Homo sapiens: one gene and its partners. The protein of the gene in region 1 purifies or fractionates together with the protein of each later gene. This does not show direct contact. Each region holds a gene or a part of one and is shown on either strand. Other genes may lie near its edges.

What was found.
Region 2: the proteins of XXYLT1 (region 1) and NOTCH2 purify together in Homo sapiens (co-immunoprecipitation; 2 studies listed by BioGRID and IntAct, with this or other methods). This does not show direct contact.
Region 3: the proteins of XXYLT1 (region 1) and PLAA purify together in Homo sapiens (co-immunoprecipitation; 2 studies listed by BioGRID and IntAct, with this or other methods). This does not show direct contact.

Annotation. Positions count from the first base shown.
Region 1 is NC_000003.12:195,156,067-195,163,174, forward strand, and holds part of XXYLT1 (xyloside xylosyltransferase 1), read right to left. Parts: intron 5,512-7,108; exon of another isoform or gene 2,794-5,511; coding exon of another isoform or gene 2,775-2,793; intron 516-2,774; coding exon 383-515; intron 1-382. UniProt on the Homo sapiens protein: Alpha-1,3-xylosyltransferase, which elongates the O-linked xylose-glucose disaccharide attached to EGF-like repeats in the extracellular domain of target proteins by catalyzing the addition of the second xylose.
Region 2 is NC_000001.11:119,919,581-119,926,688, forward strand, and holds part of NOTCH2 (neurogenic locus notch homolog protein 2 isoform 1 preproprotein), read right to left. Parts: intron 7,032-7,108; coding exon 6,919-7,031; intron 6,231-6,918; coding exon 5,725-6,230; intron 4,405-5,724; coding exon 4,057-4,404; intron 3,199-4,056; coding exon 3,056-3,198; intron 2,867-3,055; coding exon 2,656-2,866; intron 2,230-2,655; coding exon 2,133-2,229; intron 818-2,132; coding exon 649-817; intron 34-648; coding exon 1-33. UniProt on the Homo sapiens protein: Functions as a receptor for membrane-bound ligands Jagged-1 (JAG1), Jagged-2 (JAG2) and Delta-1 (DLL1) to regulate cell-fate determination.
Region 3 is NC_000009.12:26,937,178-26,944,285, forward strand, and holds part of PLAA (phospholipase A-2-activating protein), read right to left. Parts: intron 1-7,108. UniProt on the Homo sapiens protein: Plays a role in protein ubiquitination, sorting and degradation through its association with VCP. Involved in ubiquitin-mediated membrane proteins trafficking to late endosomes in an ESCRT-dependent manner, and hence plays a role in synaptic vesicle recycling.

The DNA of each region.
Region 1 (7,108 bases):
ATAGAGAATGGGGGTCACTGGTGACTCACAGGCCAAGAAAGCCCAGCTGGTCAGTAGAAGGGAAGTTAAATCTTCCTCCGTAAGGCAAAGCCCAAGATTTTAAAATTCTGAGCTTAACCAGATCCAACAACCAGAACAACTGGGCTTTTCAGAAGAAAAAGGCCACAAACTCCAACAAAATAATGAGGTAGCACCTACGGCTTGGGATAGACCCACCTGCCCATACAATCAACTGTAAGCAATAAGTACCAATGTGTTCCCAAGATACTAAGTGCAGAAGGATCGGACGCCACTAAATCCCAATCTGTCACGGCTGGCAGAAGAGAGAGGGTGAAGGGTGGGGAGGGGTCGTGGAGGCGGCCCCCCTGCAGTCATGACGCACCTGTAAACTGGCTGCATCTCCCGGGCTATGCCGATGATGGCGCCTGGCAGGAAACTGTCAAATTCCTCAAACAACTCCCGGATGTTGGTCTTAAACTTCAGGTCTAGGTCCAGCTGAATGATCTGCAGGATCTCTGCGGGAAAGAGAAAAGGACAATGAGACACAGGTACACCTCCTGGGAGGCTCGGCCACGGACAGAAAATGAAGTGGAGGGCAGAGAAAAGGGCACTGGACTCTTACTGTTGTCAGTGAATGATGCACAGTTACCGCTGGAACAAAAGGCCTTTCATCTACCAGCAACCCCTCCACACTATTAGTCTTCACAAACGACTACCCGTGTCTTTTCTTCCAACTGCAGACATCCATTTTGCTTAAAACTAGGCGACCACACGCTCCAGTGTCGGCCTGCTGTCCTGATGTAACTGTTAACCGTGCACCATTTCACTCTCAAAAGTATCTCATTTGGATGATACCTTATGTGGACACCCTGCTTCCCTACATAAAACTCAAAGCGGGCCGGGCACAGTGGCTCACATCTGTAATCCCAGCATTTTGGGAGGCCGAGGCGGGTAGATCACGAGGTCAGGAGTTTGAGACCAGCCTGACCAACATTGTGAAACCCTGTCTCTACTAAAAATACAAAAATTAGCTGGGCGTGGTGGCAGGTGCCTGTAATTCCAGCTAGTCAGTAGGCTGAGGCAGGAGAATTGCTTGAACCCAGGAGGCAGAGGTTGCAGTGAGCTGAGATCGCGCCACTGCACTCCAGCCTGGGCAACAGAGCAAGGCGCCATCTCAAAAAAAAAAAAAAAAAAAAAAAACCCTCAAAGCATCCAGGTGTTTCCTCTTTGGAGCACAGGTGATAAATAACCCACACAAGAGAGAAGTAAAAAACATTATGGTCTCAGGCCTTTATCAGTGCGTTCTGCAAACCCAGATGTGTGTCAAGTGAAGATGCTGACCAGAGCGAAACGGCTGAATGATCTCAGATACCACAGTGTTTTTAATCCACTGCCTAAAAGACAGGATGAGCCCAGATTCTTCAATGTCACAATCACCTGGCACCTAAGAGCTGCTTCCATCACCTCCAGGTGACTCCGGGCTAGAAGCACAGGAGGGAGGCACTGGCGAAGGTCATTCCCCTATCCTTCACCCAGCCCAGCCTGACCAGGATCCTAGGTGTTGTGCCAGGCACCAAGCTGACCAGGACCCTGCCCTCAAGAGAGACATGCGGGTGGCAAAAAACAGAGGGAGGGGCCAGTGCTGAAGCCTGAAATGGAAGAGCAGCTGTGGGAGGTCCAAAGAGGGGGCGCATGGGGTTCAATGATGAAGCAGCGAGAGCAAGTTCCTGGTACCCGGCCTGGGAATCAGAACACACGAGTGCAACTTCCAGTTCTGCTGCTGATTGACCCTGTGACCCAGGGAAAGTTATTTTACTTCTCTGCACCTCAGCTGTTCCATTGGCTAAAATGGGGAGGTTCTCCTGTGCCTTGTGTGGGAAATAGCTTATGGACAGTGTTACAGGGATCCTAGAGACCTTGAGGAACAGAATTCTGGAGCACAGCACCACACTGGCCAAATGTAGAATTTGTGCAAAGGCAATTTAAGGAACTTGGGATAATTTTGCTCTAACTAAAGAAACTCCTGATGGGAGGAAGGGCCGTGCATTTAGTCAGCCTGTCAATCATCACATCGAAAGCCCACCACCTGCTACAGGTGCTCTCTCTTTCAAGGCCATCTAAACTCTACTTATTCTGCAAGCAGCAGCCTAAACACCCCAGACAGGCCCTGCAGGAGTCATGGCTTCCTGCTCTGTGCTCCCCACATGGCTGTCTGCCTGCCTGTGGTCATGGCCACCCGCGTACCTGTCTCACCACCCTTCTGGAGAGGGCATTCCTTGAGAATGGGAATATGCTGGGAGGGCGGGGCTCAGGACCATCAGACGCTTCTGGATGAGCATCTTCATCTTGTCTTAATATACCCTTCAGTAAACCTGAGCACTTCCCCTGCGCTTTAGGGACCAACTGGGAGTAAACCCAGAAAGGTCCTATGTAGGCCTAAGACACCAGAATCTGAGCTGCTTCGATGTTATTTACAACTCCTCCTTCCTAAAGCACCTTCCAGGAAGGGTTTGCTTAAAGTTGGTAACACTTCACCAGGTGAGGTCCACCGACTAGGAAGGAGACAGGCGGCAACTCCAGCACAAAGTGACCCATTCACACAGATATAAAACAACTGAGATGGGAGGCCACTCCTTTCTATTCCCGGAGGCCAACAGGCCCCTGTGCAGCCTGCACTGTCCTGCGGGCACCTGTCCAGGAGGTTAGCCCCTTCATGTAATTATGAAATAAGACGCCAAGTTGTAAATGTCACTGCTGAAGAGAAAGATGCTTACTAGGAATGCTGGAATTCATTAGGATGAGGTTTCTAAAGGGGCCTGTTCCTCTGGCCTCTGGTCCTTGAGGTAGCTGTCTCTCTGTGGGAAATATGTGGGGGCAAGAGGGTTACACAGAACGCTGAAGGCTTTGTGAGGACAAAATGAGACTGATCCATGGAAGTAACATCGCAGAGAAGATGCTGGTTGGAGGATAGCTGAAATGATAGCAGTAGGATCACTGAAATGTAAGGAATAAATGAACGAGATAACTGCCCCCAAAGCCAGGAAGACATGAAACCTAAGAATCATGAGGAAGAATGAGAAAAAGGAAGACTAGACAGCTACAAGACTCACAAGAATGGCCAGCACCCAAGGCTGCCTGAATGTCCACCATGTCCAAATCTTGAGAAAACGCAACAAAAAGAATGGCATGGCAGATCTGAAAACACTGGTTATAACTGATGCCACTCTACCCATTTTACAGATGAGGAAGCTGAGGGCCAAGAAGAGAGACTTGTCAGGCATTACACGCAAGCTAGGTGGCAAAGCTGATCTCAGAACCCAGGTCTACTGACTCCCTAGTTAATGCTCCTGTGTTTATTAGCCCCGTCACCTCCAACCCACTCCCAACACAGGCCATAAACTCCTAGAGAGCAGAATGCATTGTGTAATGGACCAAAGGGTGTGCTCAGGACTAACCAGGCACCCAACACAACTAGCTCGTGGAGTATCTGCATATCATCCCATGGAAATATCAGCATGAAGACAAGTGAGTACAAGCTAAAGGTGTAGCTTTCAACACCTCCAAGACCCTGTCACCATCATTGCCGTCACGGCCCTGGCAGCACTCCTCAGGAGCTCCTGGCTGTCCAGGGGACTATTTTCAGGGCTGAGAACACCTATGTCTTCTGCCTGGGTTTGAGGCCTGGCTGGCGGCCGATGCTTCCGTACAATTACACCACAGAGGGCCACATGCACGGCCCCAGTACCAGCTGGGAGATTTTCAAATCAACATTCCCAAGGGGATGTGCGGTTGGAATTGGCGGTGGTGGATCTCACATCCAGCAGAAACTTGGGTCGCTTCTGAGCTGGACGTTTCTCTGTCAAAGCGCTCTTCTCCATTTCCCTCCCAGGACATGCTTGGGCCAACTCGGCTCATCATCAGCATCCAATTAAACCAGCCACAAGCATGTCATCTGACCATGGGTGGAATTACAACCCAGAGTGAGTAATTAATGATACCCAAAAATAAACAAGAAAAGGAAAAAAAAATCCAGAAGAAAAAAATAGTGAGCCTTCTGTCCTCTCCTTTCCCTTCTCCTATCCCCAGAAACAATTCTTAGCAGACACATCTTAACACACAAAAAGCAACACGCAACAAAATAGATCAAGAAACGATGCAAAGAAAAGACATGCTCAGGTAAGCACAGTGCCTACTGTCCTGGGAAACACAACAGGCCTTCAGGGAGGGGCAGGTGAACCATGCAAGCGCCTCCTCTGTCTTTCTGTTTTGAAATGGCTTCAGAGATTTGCAGAGATAAATATTTACAACACATTAGAGGGCTTTCACTGCAGAGCATCAGCCCAAATTCCACTAACTGGGAGAGGGTTTAGGGAGAAGGGGAAATGATGACAGCATTAAGCTATGTGACTCCAGCGTCCTGAGGCTGAGGACCTGGAAGCAGCTGCCTGGAAAAGGGGCTAATTTTCCCATTGTCCACTTTGAAATATTGCAGCAATATGCCACCTGCCTTATCATACTCTGGTGTTTTTAAATTGCTGTTCAGGAGCACCTCTGGCCTGCGGGAGCCAAAGGGCAACTGAAAGGGGTGGAGACTTCCCCTAACAGTGAGAGGATCCTGACCCCAGAGGAGTTGTTTTGAGGCCCACGGGACAGGCACGGTCCCCCTGTGCTCCACCAGCCAGACCAGGCTGGCTTCTCGCACTGGAGGGTCTGAGCATGTGGTAGAGGGTCCGCCCCGCGACGCACAGACCCAGGGCGTGTCCCCAAGGGGATGTGCGGTTGGAATTGGCGGTGGTGGATCTCACATCCAACAGAAACTTGGGTCGCTTCTGGGCTGGATGTTTCTCTGTCAAAGCGCTCTTCTCCATTTCCCTCCCAGGACAAGGCCCAGCCACAGGGCAGCTGGCTCACTATAGGAATAGGGGCTACAAAGGAAGACGGGGAGCTTGCCAAGGGTCCTGCGCCTTGGCCACAGATTCTAGGGGCTCCTCCAGCCTGACCAGACAAATGTTCACCCTCTAGGAGCAGGGAAGGGATGTCTGTGTGCCAGGCCCTGGGAAGGCTTTGCATGCTGATTCAGCCCATGAACCTCCATCATGTCTCCTCGAGGTGGTGGTTAGTATCTTCCAGTTTCAGATGAGGAACCTGATGCTCAGAGACTTTCGGTAATTTGTTTAAGACAACTCAGCAAAAAAGGCTCAGGGTGGAGAGCAATTACAGATTCGCCTCGCTCGATAGTTTGCTTGAGCCACGACACATTTCTGAGAAAAGCCTTCGGACATCTCTGAAGTCCCTTTTAAAGTCCTCTTATGAGCCAGAAATGCTTCCACATCAAGGGTGAAGATAGCAGACGACCCCAGATCATCTCTGTGCAGTGGCTGGGGCTTCATGGACAGAACCCCCAACCATGACCACCTCCCACAAGACCCTCATCCCCAAGAAGCATGAAGACTATTGGGATTCTCTTTCATTGACAAAGACCAATAGAGAAACTTCTGGAAGAAAGGGTTTTATGCCCTTGTATCACCGAATCATCTAAACACTCTATGAGATATATAGATATATAGATTTTTTTTTTTTTTTTTTGAGATGGAGTCTTGCTCTGTCACCCTGGCTGGAGGGCAATGGCGCGATCTTGGCTCACTGCAACCTCCGCCTCCCGGGTTCAAGCAATTCTCCTGCCTCAGCCTCCTGAGGCACGCCACCATACCCGGCTAATTTTTATATTTTTAGTAGAGACGGGGTTTCACCATGTTGGCCAGGCTGGTCTCAAACTCCTGAATTCAGGTGATCCGCCCACCTTGGCCTCCCAAAGTGCTAGGATTACAGGTGTGAGCCACCACGCCCAGCCCTGAGATTAATATTATTTCTATTTGGCTGGGTGCAGTGGCTGATGCCTGTAATCCCAGCACTTAGGAAGACTGAGGCAGGAGGATCACTTGAGCTCGGGAATCTGAGGCTGCAGTGAGCTGTGTTCGCACCACTGCACTCCAGCCTGGGTGACCGGGTGACCAAGTGAGGCCCTGTTTCAAAAAAAAAAAAAAAAAATTCCACTTGACAAATGAGGAAATCGAGAAGTATAATAATCCAAGATCACGCAGCTGGTCAGTGGTAGGGCTCGAAACCCCGTCTGTTGGGCTCGACAGCCTGGTGCCTGCTTTTCACTGCCCATGCTGCCCTGCCTTCCGGGCTCCTGGGCAGCCAGGATACGGCCAGCGCTCAGCTTTGCAGGCTCTGCCCAGACAGGAAGGCCTTGACTCTCACTGTGCTAATCTATGTTTTCCACATTAGCAGCCTGCCCCTCCTCGGATGGTCGGGGGGAGAAAGGAAACAGAGTTCATAGAGTGATTTATGCAACCTGTTAGCAGCTCTGGTAAAAGGTTTTGGGTCCAGGAAGTTGAAATGAATAACCACAGCCAGTTTCATATATTCGCTGTACAACAAACTTTCTTCAGGCCTTACTCGCCCCCTCTCAAAATGAAGCATGAAAAACTGTGTTGGCTATGGCTCAGCCATGGCATTGTTTATAGCGCCCAGCTCCTGTTTTGTGGACCAAACAAATTATCATGAGAAGACACAGTTTTTGCTTCAGCAACAGTGTAACATGAGTCTCCTTCCTCATCCTTAGCACCTTCTGCTAAGAGGTATAAATCATATCCTTTAGGATAGGACAGAATTTATTTTGAACTTGGCTGAAAAATTTGGGGGACTTACATAAGACAGCACATATAACACCCAATGTAAATTTCCCTCTCGCTTCTATTGCCAATATGAAGTGATGGCTTACGCACGGATTGATGTAGTTCAATACACAGGGGAAATGGAATTTGAGATCTGAAAATCTTCCATTTCTATGGTAAGGATGTCCATGGTCCCTGCTGGCCTTTCCATAGTTCACATCTCTCTCGTGTCTGCTATAAGTTTTTGGTTTTTTTTTGTCTCTAAAAGCTTAAATTCTTTCCTATTTGAGGCAGGAACACATCTGGACTCTGTTCACAACAGTTAGACCGATGATGCTTAGTCTTTCTTCTTCACCAACAGGCTTTTTTTCAGAGACCCCTGGGGGAGAAGCTGTAGAAAGCAATCCTTTTTGGATAGAATTATCAGG
Region 2 (7,108 bases), on another chromosome or scaffold:
GGAGAGAAGCCAACATCAATGGGGTGCAGCCATCTGTAGGAATGGAAAATTCCATAAAGTACTCAAGAAGGAGAAGGTAGTTAACCCTATGGTTGAAACAGCTCTATTTGACTAAAGTTATTCTTAGGGGCAAAGAATTCCCTGTACTTCTTGTAGTAACTGGTTATTAGTTTCACATTTGCCACCTTTTCCTCTGATAGTATCATTTCTGTAAAGAATAATGGGAAAGTACAAGTCTTTTTAAGCTGGGGGCTCTTCTCTAAACACGTTTTTCTGTTCAAGTTTAAGTGCTGTTATTTTAATTGGACATTTAAAAATATCTAATATTAATAGAACAATTAATACATGCATAAGATACTAACTATCCTCTGCTTTGGGATATTATTTTTCTATCCCACTACAATCTAACCCATTTTATCAGCCTGTTTAGTCTCAACACACTGTACATGAAGCAATGTGAAATCCTTCCCTTTCTGAGCTGATAATTTCTTTGTGGCTACATTCCTTAAGCATTCATTTCCTCGAGCTGATTTAGAGTCTGTGAAATTGGGAAGGGGTTTATGACTGGACAGGGCAAACACAGGGACAACAATGTGGAACCATGGGCAGACACAGCCCAGTGAAGAGGGGAAGAGGCCCGGTGCTGACCTGGGCCACGGACATTCACATCTAACACATCCACCTCCTGCTCTGCCTGAGGAGGGGTGAGAGCCAGCGATGGTGTCCTACGGATGTCTGCAGCTTCAAGGTGCTGCTGTGTCCATGGCCGTCGATCAATGGGGTCATCTTCTTCTGAGAGTAAGGCCTCATCTTCAGCCTGAAAGGTGAAAACAATGCTCCCTATCAATCTGGCCACCACCAGAAACTGCTAATCAGAAGGTGTCCAGAGCCTCCACCACCGCTGCTTATCTCCCATTGTTTTCTCTCTTCCTACTCCTCCACCCCTCCAGAGGATTACCTCAGCCTTGGCTTCCCACTGCTCTCGTGATGTGGCTCCTGCTTACCTTTCCTGCATCATCTAGACAACTCCCTCCCCCAATCCCAAACTCTAGGCTTTAGCCTTTAGATCTCCAGAGCACCCAATTCTCACTTTTCCTACCCTCCACTAGAAAGTAAACTTTAATTCTTCTTGTTGGCCCTAAAAAGCATACTCTGCTTACCTCTGCTTAACTGATCATGTGTTAAATGCTTACACAGCACTACATGGCCATCTCCACCACAAGGCTGTAAGCTTCTCAAGAAGGGAAAATAAGCCTTGTTCAAGGTTGTTTCCTTGTACTCAACATAGCACCCAACATGTAGTAAGCACTCAGGAAAGACTATTCAATAATAATAATCATGATAATTTAAAAGCAGCTACCCTTTACTGAATACCTAGTACATGACAGGAAAGTAGATAAGGCACATATGCCAACACAACAACTCACAGAGGAAAGGGTTATTATTATCCGCATTTTACAAGGAAGGATAATTACAAAGAGGTTAAGTAACTTGCCAGCTACTAAGCGGCAGAGTTTTGGATTTGAATCCAGTTCTGATATTAACTAAAGCAATCTTCTTAACCATCATGCTCCACCAGCTCCCAGCCATGCACAGCTGTGGATGGATGGTCTGCTTTTTCATGTCAGTCTCAGCCCAATCTACCACTTGCTTTTATATGGCTTTAGTTTCCTGGGCTCAAGGTATGGAGCCTCCAATGTCAACGTTTTGCCATGATCACTGGCTTTCATTTTGCCAATGTCAATGATAACTGGCTTTCTTCCACTGCTTAATTTCATCTTCTCTTATAGAAGAAGTGCCCATAAAGGATAAGGAAGAGATGTGGCCATGAAGGAATTGCCATCTACACACACCATTCCTGACTTGACTACTGCCAGCATAACACTAAAGGAAACAGATGTGCTTAGTATTTTTAAAGAGTTATTCTTGAAGAGCATATATAGGTAACCCAAGGTCATTTACGTCCTAAGGATTCCTGCTGTTTAGGAGAACCTAGGATAGTTATTGTCTGGGTAAGACATCAAGACTATCACTCTTTACTCCCATTCAGGACACTCTGGAGCTAAAGGACAGAAATTTGAAATGTAACCAGATAATGGCTGACAATGGTGGTTCTACCATGGCCACCTCACCTTTACTTTCTTTGGCTGGGGCCCTTCATCATCGACCCAGTGTTCACTTGTTCCAGTACCAATTAGGTTAGCTTCTGAGACTTGCACTGAGAGATTTCTAATATGATTATAAAAAGAAAAAATAAGAATGGCAGTCATAAACTAATACAGTGGTTTTCAACACTTTCCACCATGACACACTCCCGTGGCTATATTACAATTTTGCAGGGTCTTGGCCCAGAGAAGATGGGCAGTATTTTTGGTGACATTCCCTTGGCATTCATCCTTTCCCTTCCCATTGATCGTGAGCTTACAACAAAAGGGCACCTCAACACAGAAGCTGGGCGGCATTGTGATAATATACACAGAATAGATGCACCCACGCTCTGACTGTGGTTTCAGTCACTCACAAGGCATTTAGAATCATGGTCAATGTGAGTAAATGCCCAGAGCTTAGAATTTAAAATCATGATTCAACAAGATATGCTTTTCTAGTCATCCCTACTTATACTGTGAATAGTGGCTTATTGGCAATGCCTCTTACTTCAGCCCCACAGCATCCTGTCCCACTGGCTCACGACGCTTGTGATTGCTTGCATCTCGGCGAAGAGTGAAACCTTCAGGCAGCCAGAGAGAGCCATGCTTACGCTTTCGTTTTGCCATGATTACCCCCAGCAGAATAATAAACAGAATGATGACAACAGCAACAGCAAGGAGATAGAGGAGCTGAGTGCGTTCTGGAGTCAGGGATTCACCTGAAAGTCCACAGAGACAGGGAAAGTGCTGAATAAAACATTAACCTCTCAATGTCAGCATTAGATTCATTTAGAGGGCAACTTTGACCTCAACAGTCCTGAAAAAATAGAGGGCTACATAATGAAAATTGTTCCCCCAATTGACACTCTTCCCCCGCCACCTTTCCCCTTTACACCAGTGCCACTCACTGACGACAGACACAAGAGGGTATGACAGGGTCCCCTGTATGGCGTGAGAGGCCAGGAGAGCTGCTGCTGCATCCGTGTTCTTGAAGCAGTGGTCTGAGTCTTGAACACACTGGCGGTTGTCAATTTCCAGAAAGACTTTAGAGCTGTGGGATGCCAAGGGAGAAGCGGAGGAGGAGAGATGGGGGTAAAACAGAAGAGTGCAGGTCAGGCAGAACATGTCATAAAGGGTGACAGGAGCCTCCCTTCCTCCCCTTCAGCATCAGGTCCCCACCTCTGGGATGCTGCCTTAAGACATATCTCAGGAATTAGAATACTGTCCCTTGAGATCTTAAACACTAATTCCCACATAGAGGATGTCCCACCTTCCTTAGTCTGGCTGACCAAAGCCTTCTGGCTGAGGCAATGCATGACAAAGTGAGAAGCTGTGCTTTCCTCCCGAAGGTTTCAGTGGTCTTCTTCCACTCTTTCATACCTACTCAGTGGTACTTGGTGCTACTCTAAACATACATCCCTGTGTGTTTTTAGTCCTTATTTTCCTTTGTCTCTGCATTGGTATCTCAGCTAGCTGGAGGGTTGAAAGTTTGACAATATACCAACAAAGAGTGAGGTGTGAATGACAGAGCAACTGAAGATCATTACCTGTGTCAAAGAGACATATATTCTAAAGAAGGGCCTTAACAATAAGGCAATGATTAATGTAAAAAGGAATGTCACTAATAAAGGGATTTGAGGCAACTCTGGCAAAAGGTTATGGATTCTGGCATCTGAGGAGGCCTTCCAGACATTCTGCCTCCTGTGTACCCCTGCCCACTTTTCAGCCAAGACGAAGGCATATCTTTACATTTAAACGTAAGTACTGGGGTAACGGGTTTATCTTAAGTGGTGGGCCATTCTATTTTTCTGATCTTTGCATTTCTATAGGTTGAGTTATGACTTGTGCTATATGTCAAAGTGCTAGGCTTCATAAAATTAGCCTTGAAGTTCAGAAACCAAACACCTACCCAGCCACCTCCTGTTCTTGTTCACCAGGAAGGGATCTGCGTGTCATCCTCTGTTTCTTCATAGCAGCTGACTTCTCACCATAATAGGGGTACACCATGAGTTCCCCCTGGGAGTCCCGCTTAATGCGCAGGTTGGTGTGGAGCAGGGTACCCAGTGCCCGCAAGAAGCTGCGAGCATCCTGGAGCAGTTGTTCAGGTGGCATCAATACCACAATAACCAGGGTACCTTCTGCCAGGTTCTCAGGTTGGTCAGCAGCACAGTCCAGCCCATCCCAACCACACTCCTCACTGTTGCACCCCTGGTCACAGTGGTTGTCTTTGAAGTGGTCTGCACAGTATTTGTCATACCTAGGTAAGGGGAAGCAGAGAACAGGCAAAAGAGCTCAGATTAGACTGGAGCTCTATTTGCTTTTTCATTTGGAACTACTGTGGATTTTCCTACCCATTTTCTGTGGCCCACACCCAGGACCCAAATGCCCCACAAAACCTTCTTTGCATCTCCTATCCCTGATGCCTATGCCACTCATCCTTGTTGAGTACTTCCTAAATGAAGAACATTGTACTCACTATGCTGCAGGAGCTTAGGGGCTCCCAGGCAGTTTACAAGCCTGTTAAGTCAGGTTTTCAAACAAAGCTGCATATCTGAAACAAAAGTCAACCTGGTTCATGCTTCCTCTACTTTAGAGAAATCCATTGCCCCCAGTAAGGTAACAACGGGCTTTAGGAAGTGAAAGATGCCTCTAGAAACTTGATACAAGGCCCTGAACCATTGAGAGTTGCCATACAGAGAACAATATTAACATGACCCATTTCTTTCCCTTTCAAGAGTGAATCCCAACTACAGAAGGTAAAGGCAGATGGGTATGTCCTTATAGCACACCAGATATTACTTGTACAGGCTCTTTCAATATTTGGAAAAGGAATTAGAACCCCCAAACCTAAATGATGTACAAACTATTCCATCTATACTCTCCTCTCCTCATCCCCTACCCCTTGATATTTATACTATTTGGTACAACTTTTCATGCTAGCTCAATCAGAAGATTAGGAGTCAAAGAAACAACTTGCTTTGGCAAGTTCTTTAACCCTTGGGCCTAAGTTCTCTCACCTATGAAAGAATGTTAGTAATACCTATGCCTCGTGAGTTGCTGAGAATTAATTGGGATTAAATTATATGGAATGGCTAGTTAATAGGAAAGTTCCTAAGTAAACCATAGAGCATCCTATACAATTAAGACCGGGAGGGTTCACAGACTTAATCTAATTCATGCTTCCTGATAAATCTAGATGGGGAAAAACAGTCTTAGGGAAAGGAATGGGGTGAAGAGAGAGATACAGACCTTTCCATCCATCCTGCAGGCAGGTTATGTGAGAGGCTGCTTGAAGTGGGAAACACCACTTCCAAAAGTTATATCCCCCAGGAGGTCACGAAGGCAGCAGGTGAGAAGGCAAAGATAGGCAGAGAGAGAGGGTCATTATGCAATGAGCATTCCTGGCCCATTGTCAGCAAGGGAGAGCACAGGGCAGTGTGCGATGGGACAAGGCTGGCACCATCTGAAAAGCAGAGGCAGCTTAGGCTGAAGCACTGGAGTGGTTAGGAGCAAGAACGAGAAACTGAAGTGTGTTAGTGACAGTCCCCTTCAGTTCTGGAAAACGTGAAGCCCTTACTTGCATGTCTTGCTGTTCCCCTGGCATTCAAAGTTGTCAAACAGGCACTCGACCGTGTTGCACAGCTCATCACACTGGTTGTTGATATAATCCCAGCAGGGAAGTGGGGAGGAGCAGTTGGCCCAGGGGTTCTCCATGGTGAGAGAACAGTCACCCCCATCCCACTGGCAGGCATGGCTGTTGCAGGCCTCATCACAGACGCCATCCCGAGCTTTGTCGGCACAATACTGGCTCAGACAGGTGGCAGGAGGGGTGCTGGGGGGTGCCGTGTAGAGTTCACAGCGGCTACCCGAGAATGGTGGGGCACACTGGCAGGAGTAATAAGGAGGCTGGCGCTGAGGGTGGCAGCTGCCCCCGTGCTGGCAGGGGCTACTGGCACAGCCTGACTCGCAGTCCCGGGGACTGGGGCAGAAGCAGCGGGGTCCAGAGGCGGTGTGCACACACTGCTCCCCCTTCCTACATTTCACTTGTCCACAGCTGCTCTGGCACCTTGCCCCGGAAAATCCCTGTGGAAATCAGTGAGGAAATAAAAATGGCATTGGTAGGAAAACAGTCATATTGGAAGTTTGAGGTTTCTAGAAAACCTCCACATCTCACTCCCTTCTGTACTTCCCGTTCAGCCCAAGCCAAGGTTACTAGACAGGTTTCCTTTTGGTATCTCCCGAGGCATAGGGATCTCTTGTTTTGGGAAGGTTTCAACCTCTGGCAGTGATAAAAGAATGGGTATAGCAAATAGCTAAAATTGAGCTTCCCTCTACTTTAAGAGACAACTTGCTTCCAAATGGTTCCTGCTAAAGAATGTAAGAGCAGCATTTCCACCAACTCTGGCCCAATCTGGGCAGTGAGATTACCCTCCAGCCTGGGGCCAAGAAGCCCCACACATCAGCCCTATTTTCAAGGGGGCACTCCACCACTTTTTGTGGTTTTCCCTTAGTTTTTCTTAAGACTGACAGTCATGGATTGGGAAGCTCACTGTTTCTGGGAGTGTCTAAACAGCTTTTATTTGTTTTTGTTTTGTTTTGTCACTTGTAAACAGCTTTAAATGGAAAAACCCAAGCACTTTCCTCTGAAAGAGCTAAAATTGAGAAATCTTCCCATTTCGAAGATTGGTAAAACCAGGTTTAATCTCAGTTCTGTTCACAGATTGTATGGAAGAGACAATGCCCCTTCTTAGATGAGCAACAGGGCACTTACCGGGGGACAACGGCAAATGAAACCATCAGGCATGTTACTGGCCACAGCACAAGTCCCTCCATTCAGGCAGGGCATCTGGGGACACACATCGACGAAGGTTTCACAGTGCCGGCCTCAGAAAATAAAAAATAAAAAAGGTTTTAAAAGGCAGAAGTAGTCACTGCAAGTTACTCAACAAACTTTGCTGGGA
Region 3 (7,108 bases), on another chromosome or scaffold:
TAACACCTTCATTTTCCTCTTCTGGGAGCAAGATAATAAAGACTAAGATATTCAAAAGGAACTACATATATGGAAAAAATTAGAAAGTGAAAGTGCATGCCCAGGGAAAAGCACAGGCTCAGAAAAGACTGAGAAGACTAAGTTTACATCTTAGCCCGATATTTGAAACAAAGACACCCTTCAACAACAACAACAACAAAAAGATAATACACAAAAACATAACAAAAAACAGCAAACCCTGGAAAAGGGGAAGAATATGATTTCTAGAGTTATATTATTAGATTAAATGTTCACTTTCAACCACAACAAAAAAATCACACGCATACAAATAAACAGAAAAGTATGGCCCATTCAAAGGAAAAATTAAGTCAATAGACACTGTCCCTGAAAAAGACCTGGCAGCAGATCTACTAGACAGAGACTTTAAAACAACTGTTTTAAACATGCTCAAAGAACTAAAGGAAGATGGAGAAAGTCAAGAAAATTATGCATGAAGAAAACTGAAGTATCAGTAAAGAGGCAGAAAACCTATAAAGAAACCAAAAAGAAATTATGAAGATGAAAGGTATGATAACTGAAATGAAATTATTCACTAGACAACTTGAAGACAGATTCAAGCAAGAAGAAATAATTAGCAAACTTGAACATAGGACAGTAGAAATTATCAGGTTTGAAGAACACAAAAAAAGACTGAAAAAAAAAAAAATGAACAGAGCCTAAGGGACTTGTGGAACAACATGAGGTAGGCCAGCATACAGATTGTGGCAGTCCTAGAGAGAGGGGAAAGGGAGCAGAGAGAATATCTGAAGAAATAATGGCTGGAAACATCCCAAATTTGATGAAAGACATGAATATAAACATCCAAAGAAACTCAACAAACTCCAAGAAGATAAATTCAAAGAGACCCACACCAAGTCACATTATATTCAAACTTAAGAAAGGGAGATACAAAGAATCTTGAAAGCAGTAAGAAAGAAGTAACTTATCACATACAAGGGATCCTCAATAATATAATTAGTAGATTTCTCATCAAAAACTTTGGAGGTCAAACTGAGTGCAGTAGCACACACCTGTAGTCCCAGCACCTCAGGAGACTGAGATAGGAGAACCGCTTGAGCCCAGAAGTTGGAGGCTGCAGAGTGCTGCGACCACACTCAAGAACAGCCACTGCATTCCAGCCTGGTCAACATAGCGAAACCCCATCTTGAAAAATTTTTTTGGAGCATTAGCTAGGTGTGATAGTACACACCTGTAGTCCCAGTTACTTGGGAGGCTAAGGCGAGAGGATCCCTTGAGCCTGGGAGTTTGAGACTTAAGTGAGCTATGACTGTACCACTGTATGCCCGCCTGGGCCAAAAGAGTAAGACACCATTTCTTAAAAAAAAAAAAAAAAAAAAAAATGGTGAGGGAGTTTGCTGCCATGAGACCTCCCTGTAAGAAATGCTTAAAGGAGCCTTCTCGCACAGTGAAATGAAAACACACTAGACAGACTTGAAGCAATATGAAGAAATAAAGATCTCAATAATGGTAAATACGATAGTGGTTTATAACTCTACCTTTTGATTTCTATGTCATTTAAGAAACATTACATTAAAAAAATTAGCCTAAAAGCTAATGATATTGTAACTTTGGTTTGTAACTCCAAATTTTTCCTACATAATTTCAGAAATTAAGGCATTTAAAGTAATTATTACTTTATGTTTTTAGGACACAGAGTACATACAGATGTAATTCTGTGACACCAACAACCAAAAGGGGTGAAGATGGAGCTATAAAGAAGAATTTTTGTTTGTTATTGAAGTTAAATGTATACATTCAAATTAGAGGATTACAACTTTAGGATATTAAATATAATCCTCATGGTAAACACACACAAAAATAGAATATACACTAAGGAAATGGGGAAGGAATTTAAACATAAATAAACTAGGCCGGGCGCCGTGGCTCACGCCTGTAATCCCAGCACTTTGGGAGGCTGAGGCCGGCGGATCACAAGGTCAGGAGATCGGGACTATCCTGGCTAACACGGTGAAACCCCATCTCTACTAAAAATACAAAAAATTAGCCAGGTGTGGTGGCAGGGGCCTGTAGTCCCAGCTACTCGGGAGGCTGAGGCAGGAGAATGGCGTGAACCCAAGAGGTGGAGCTTGCAGTGAGCCGAGATTGCGCCACTGCACTCCAGCCTGGGCCACAGACTGAAACTCCGTCTCAAAAAAAGATAAAAATAAAATAAATAAATAAACAAACATATAAATAAATAAATCAACTAAACACAAAAGAAGACAGTAATGCAGGAGATGAGAGACCAAAAAAAAAAAAAAAAAAAACCAAACAAACTTTAAGGCATATAGAAAACAGACAGCAAAATGGCATCGGTGATTACTTTCAATGTAAATGAATTAAATTCTCCAATCAAAAGACAAAGATTGGCAGAAACCATTTTAAAAAACATAATCCAGCTCGGTGCTGTTTATGAGACTCACTTTAGATCCAAAGACACAAATATACTGAAAGTGATAGGATGAAACAGGATATTCCATGAAAACAGCAAACAAAAGAAAGCAGGAGCAGCTATATTAACATTAGACAAAATTGACCTTAAATCAAAAAAAGAAAACAAGAGACAAAGAAGGATATTATATATTAATAAAAAGTTCGGTACAGGAAGAAGATATAACAATTATAAACATTTATGCACATAATATATAAAACAAAAACTGACATAATTGAAGTGATATATAGATAGTTCTACAATAATAGTTGAAGACTTCAATATCTCAATCTCAATAATGGATAGAATAATCAGACAGAAAACATGTAAGGAAAAAGAGGACTTAACAAAATAAATCAACTAGAACTAACAGACATACAGAATATACTACGTGAAAGCAAAGACACCTGCTACAGAAAAAAGTATGGAAATTCCTAGAAAAATTAAAAATAAAATTACCATATGACTCAGCAATTCCATTTCTGGATATATTCCCAATGGAAATGAAAGCAGGATCTTAAAGAGATATGTGTATAACCATATTCATAGTAGCATTATTCACAATAGCTCAAATGTGGCATCAACCTAAGTGTCCATCAATGGATGAATAAACAAAATGTGGTATAAACATGAAATTTTATTCAGCCTTAAAAAGGAGGGAAATTCTGACATATGCTACAACATGGAAGAACCTTGAGGACATTGTGCTAAACGAAATAAGCCAGTTATAAAAACACAAATACTGTATGATCCCACTTATATGTGGAACTTAGAGCTGTCAAAATCATACAGACATAAAGTAGAATCGTGGTTGCCAGGGTCTGGGGGTGGAGACAATGAGTTATTGCTTAAACAGGTACAGTTTCAGTGTAAAGAGATAAAAAGAGTTAAAAGATGGATGGTGGTGATGGTTACACATTATGAATATACTTAATACCATTGAACTGTACAGTTTAAAATGGTTAAGATGGCAAATTTTATGTTTTGTGTATTGTATCACAATAAAAAAACTGGAGGAAAAGAATTAACAGCACTATATACCTCCAGAGGTGAGGACAAAGAGGCAGGAACTAAGATAAGAAAGACTAATCGAAAGTCTTCAGAATCTGAAGCATTATGAAAAAGTCTTCAAAGAAAGATACCTGGTAGTAACCAATTTCAACTTGTTCACTTCATTTTAGGGGGTGTTGTTTTTGTTTTTTAATGCTTTTGAAACCATTTTATCAATAAGCCCAGAGGAAGTCAAAAGATAGAACATGTTTTAAAATCTGTATTATGTAAACCACTAAATCTACCCACTATGTGTAACCCTTAACACTTCAAAGCATAGATGTTTGTGTGCATCTTCGGTAGTGGTCTGTGAAGTTCTTAATGGCAGAATCCAGATTAGGTTCTTTGTGTCTTCCCAAGTCCCTAGCACAATGTTTTAAATGGTTAGCATTAAGTATTTCTTAAACTGATTTTAAAAAATACTTAAGGTATTAAGACAAAAAAAAAAACAAAAACAAAACACGGGGGGTGGGGGAGGGATGTGCAGCTAGACAACCCAGCCAGACAACTGTCCTGCTAGTACTCAGCAAAAGTCTGAAGCTTTTTCTTTAAAAAGAAAATCTTTGAATGGGGGGACATAAGGATAGTTGAGTCTTGGGAGTGTGAAGAATGTGTATATTCCTACTGGAGCCCAAGACCACCAAAAGAAAACCCTGGAAACCATACCCTCATCCTCTAGGCAGCAGATCAGCCCAATATAATGGCCCTACCAGATAACTCAACAGTAAAACTCACAACCAGCAAGCCCCATCCAGGAGCACAGATCTCCCAGGAGCTTCTTAATTCTCTACCCATAACACTGAGCACACAATAAAGATTACCAGACATCTGGGGAAAGCCTCCAGCATGAAATACAGTGATCAAAACAAATAGAGATGAGAAAAAAACCAATATGGAGGAAAACAGACCATTAAGGAGGAAATACCTTAAAACATTTTTTTAAATTGTCATTATCATCCTTAGAGGTATAAGATATTGCAACCATGAAACAAGGACATAATTTCACAAAGTCAAGGCAACCTGCTAGAGATTACAGCCAAGAAAAAAAAAAAAGAGAGAAATTTAGAAAGCAAGTTCAATATCTGAATAAAAACAGTTCCAGAAAAAAGAAGACAGAAAAAATAAAGAGAAAGCAGCCAAAGAATTAATTGAAGAACATTTCCCAGAATTTATGGACATGAGTTTTCATATTAAAAGGGCCCGCCAATGGCCTGGAACAATGGATAGAAGTAGACTGCCTTCCAGAAAGAAAAAAAAAATAGTTCAAAAATCAGAATGGCTTCAGACTTCTCAACAGTAACACTAGAAGATGAAATACAATGGATTCCATCACAATTCTGAAAGAAAATTATTTTAAAATTAGAATGCTACAACCATTCAAATTATCATGCCAGTAACAAGGCAAAATAAAATAACTTTCAGACTTGCAAGGTCTTAAAACATTTATTACTGATGCACTACATTTCAGGAAGCTCTTAGAGGTTATGTTCCAATAAGGCAACAAGGAAGAAAACCAACCAAGAGAAAGCTAAAGGATACTGACAATAAAAATCCAACATATGAGGTTCAAAAAAGTTGTTTTGGAAACAACAATGAAGGGAAATCCTAGGATTAGTTGTGCATCAGAGGTAGACAGACCAGGTCAGAAAGTTTGCATTGTCAGGAGAGGAAATTGTAAAATATCCAATGTATCTAAAGGCCTTAAGAGGTGATTCGGTAACGAACAAAGACTTTGAAATTGACTCAGTGATAAATACATAGTAAGCTAAGCAAATGAAAACCAAAATAAAACAATTATTAGCCACATGCAGATCATAAAATTGTTGAGGAAGAGTTATCATAGATTATTCCACAGCTTAAATTATAAGAGTCAGAGCACGGAGGCCGGGCATGGTGGCTCACGCCTGTAATCCGAGCACTTTGGGAGGCCAAGGCGGGCGGATCACGAGGTCAGGAGATCCAGACCATCCTGGCTAACACTGTGAAACCCCGTCTCTACTAAAAATACAAAAAATTAGCCGGGCGCCGTGGCGGGCGCCTAAAGTCCCAGCTACTCGGGAGGCTAAGGCAGAATGGCGTCAACCCGGGAGGCGGGGCTTGCAGTGAGCCGAGACAGCGCCACTGCACTCCGGCCTGGGCGACAGAGCGAGACTCGTCTCAAAAAAAAAAAAAAAAAAAAAGGCACAGAAAAAGATGCATACGTGATGGGGTGAGTGGAAGGCAGAAAGAGAGCTAAATTCTCATATTCTACAGTAGGAACTAATAGATTACAACTAAAAAATCTATTAATATAGATTAATATAATCAGATCCTATATCTGAAGATGTGTCTTCAAGCATGGGTCGTTTTTCAAAAGGCAAGGCAATATAAAGGCAAAGCTGCTGAAGTCCTATCTCACTCATCTCTCCCCACCCAGAAGTCAACGACAGACTTGGGAAATGTAATTTAGCTTGAAGCTAGCTTATAGAGACCTGAAGTAGTCTGAAACAATGGCATGTTGCTGGCTCAGTTCAATGCCCAACCAACAGATATGTCTCCACTCTGAAGGTCCAAAGACTTTCTGGGTTTTCAAAGGGCTTTTGTGAAAGACTAGGTACCTGGTTTAGTCTACTCTAAAACAGAACTATTTCTGCCTCCCTAGAACTAACTTTCCCCATTATTCCCAGTCCATCCCTACATTTACTACCCTGATCTAGAACCTTAGCAACAACATACATGGAAAGCAGTGGTAAATTCATTTGCATCAGAGGTAGACAGACCAGGTCAGATTCAGTAAGAGGCAATTCAGTAATGAACAAAGAATTTGAAGTTGAATCAGTGGTACTGATTCAAATTTACAGTGGTAAATTTCATTTACCACTTGGCTACATGGGAAAGCAAATTTCATTTACGACTTCACTCCAAACATTTATAGCATTTCATTAACTCTATTAATATGCTGTTATGAGCTGGGAGTGGTGGTTCACACCTTTAATCCCAACACTTTGGAAGGCTGAGGCAGGAGGATTGCTTAAGCCCAGGAGTTTGAGACCAGCCTGGGCAATCTAGTAAGACGCTCATCTCTACAAAAATAAATAAATAAAAATTAGCTGGGCATAGTGGTTCTTGCCTGTAGTCCCAGTTACTTAAGAGGCTGAGGTGGGAGGATTGTTTGAGCCCAGAAGGTCGAGGCTGCAATAAGGCAGTGATCATGCCATTGCATTCCAGCCTGGGCAACAAAGCAAGACCCTGTGTCAAAAAAACAAAATCACACAAATATTCTATTATGGCCTGAACGTGTCCCCCAAAGTTCATGTGCTGGAAACTTAACCTTCAATGCAACCATGTTGAGAAGTAGAACCTTTAAGAGGTGATTAGATCAAGAGGGTTCTGCCGCCATGAATAGATTAATGTCATTATTGCGGGACTGGGTTAGAGAGTGGCTTTGTTACAAAAGCAAGTTTGGCCCCTCTGCGCCTCTTGCTGTGTGCTCTCCTACCCTTCCACCATAGGATGATACAGCAGCAAAGAGGCCCTCTCAAGATGCCGATACCTTGATAATGGACTTCCCAGCATCCAGAACTATGA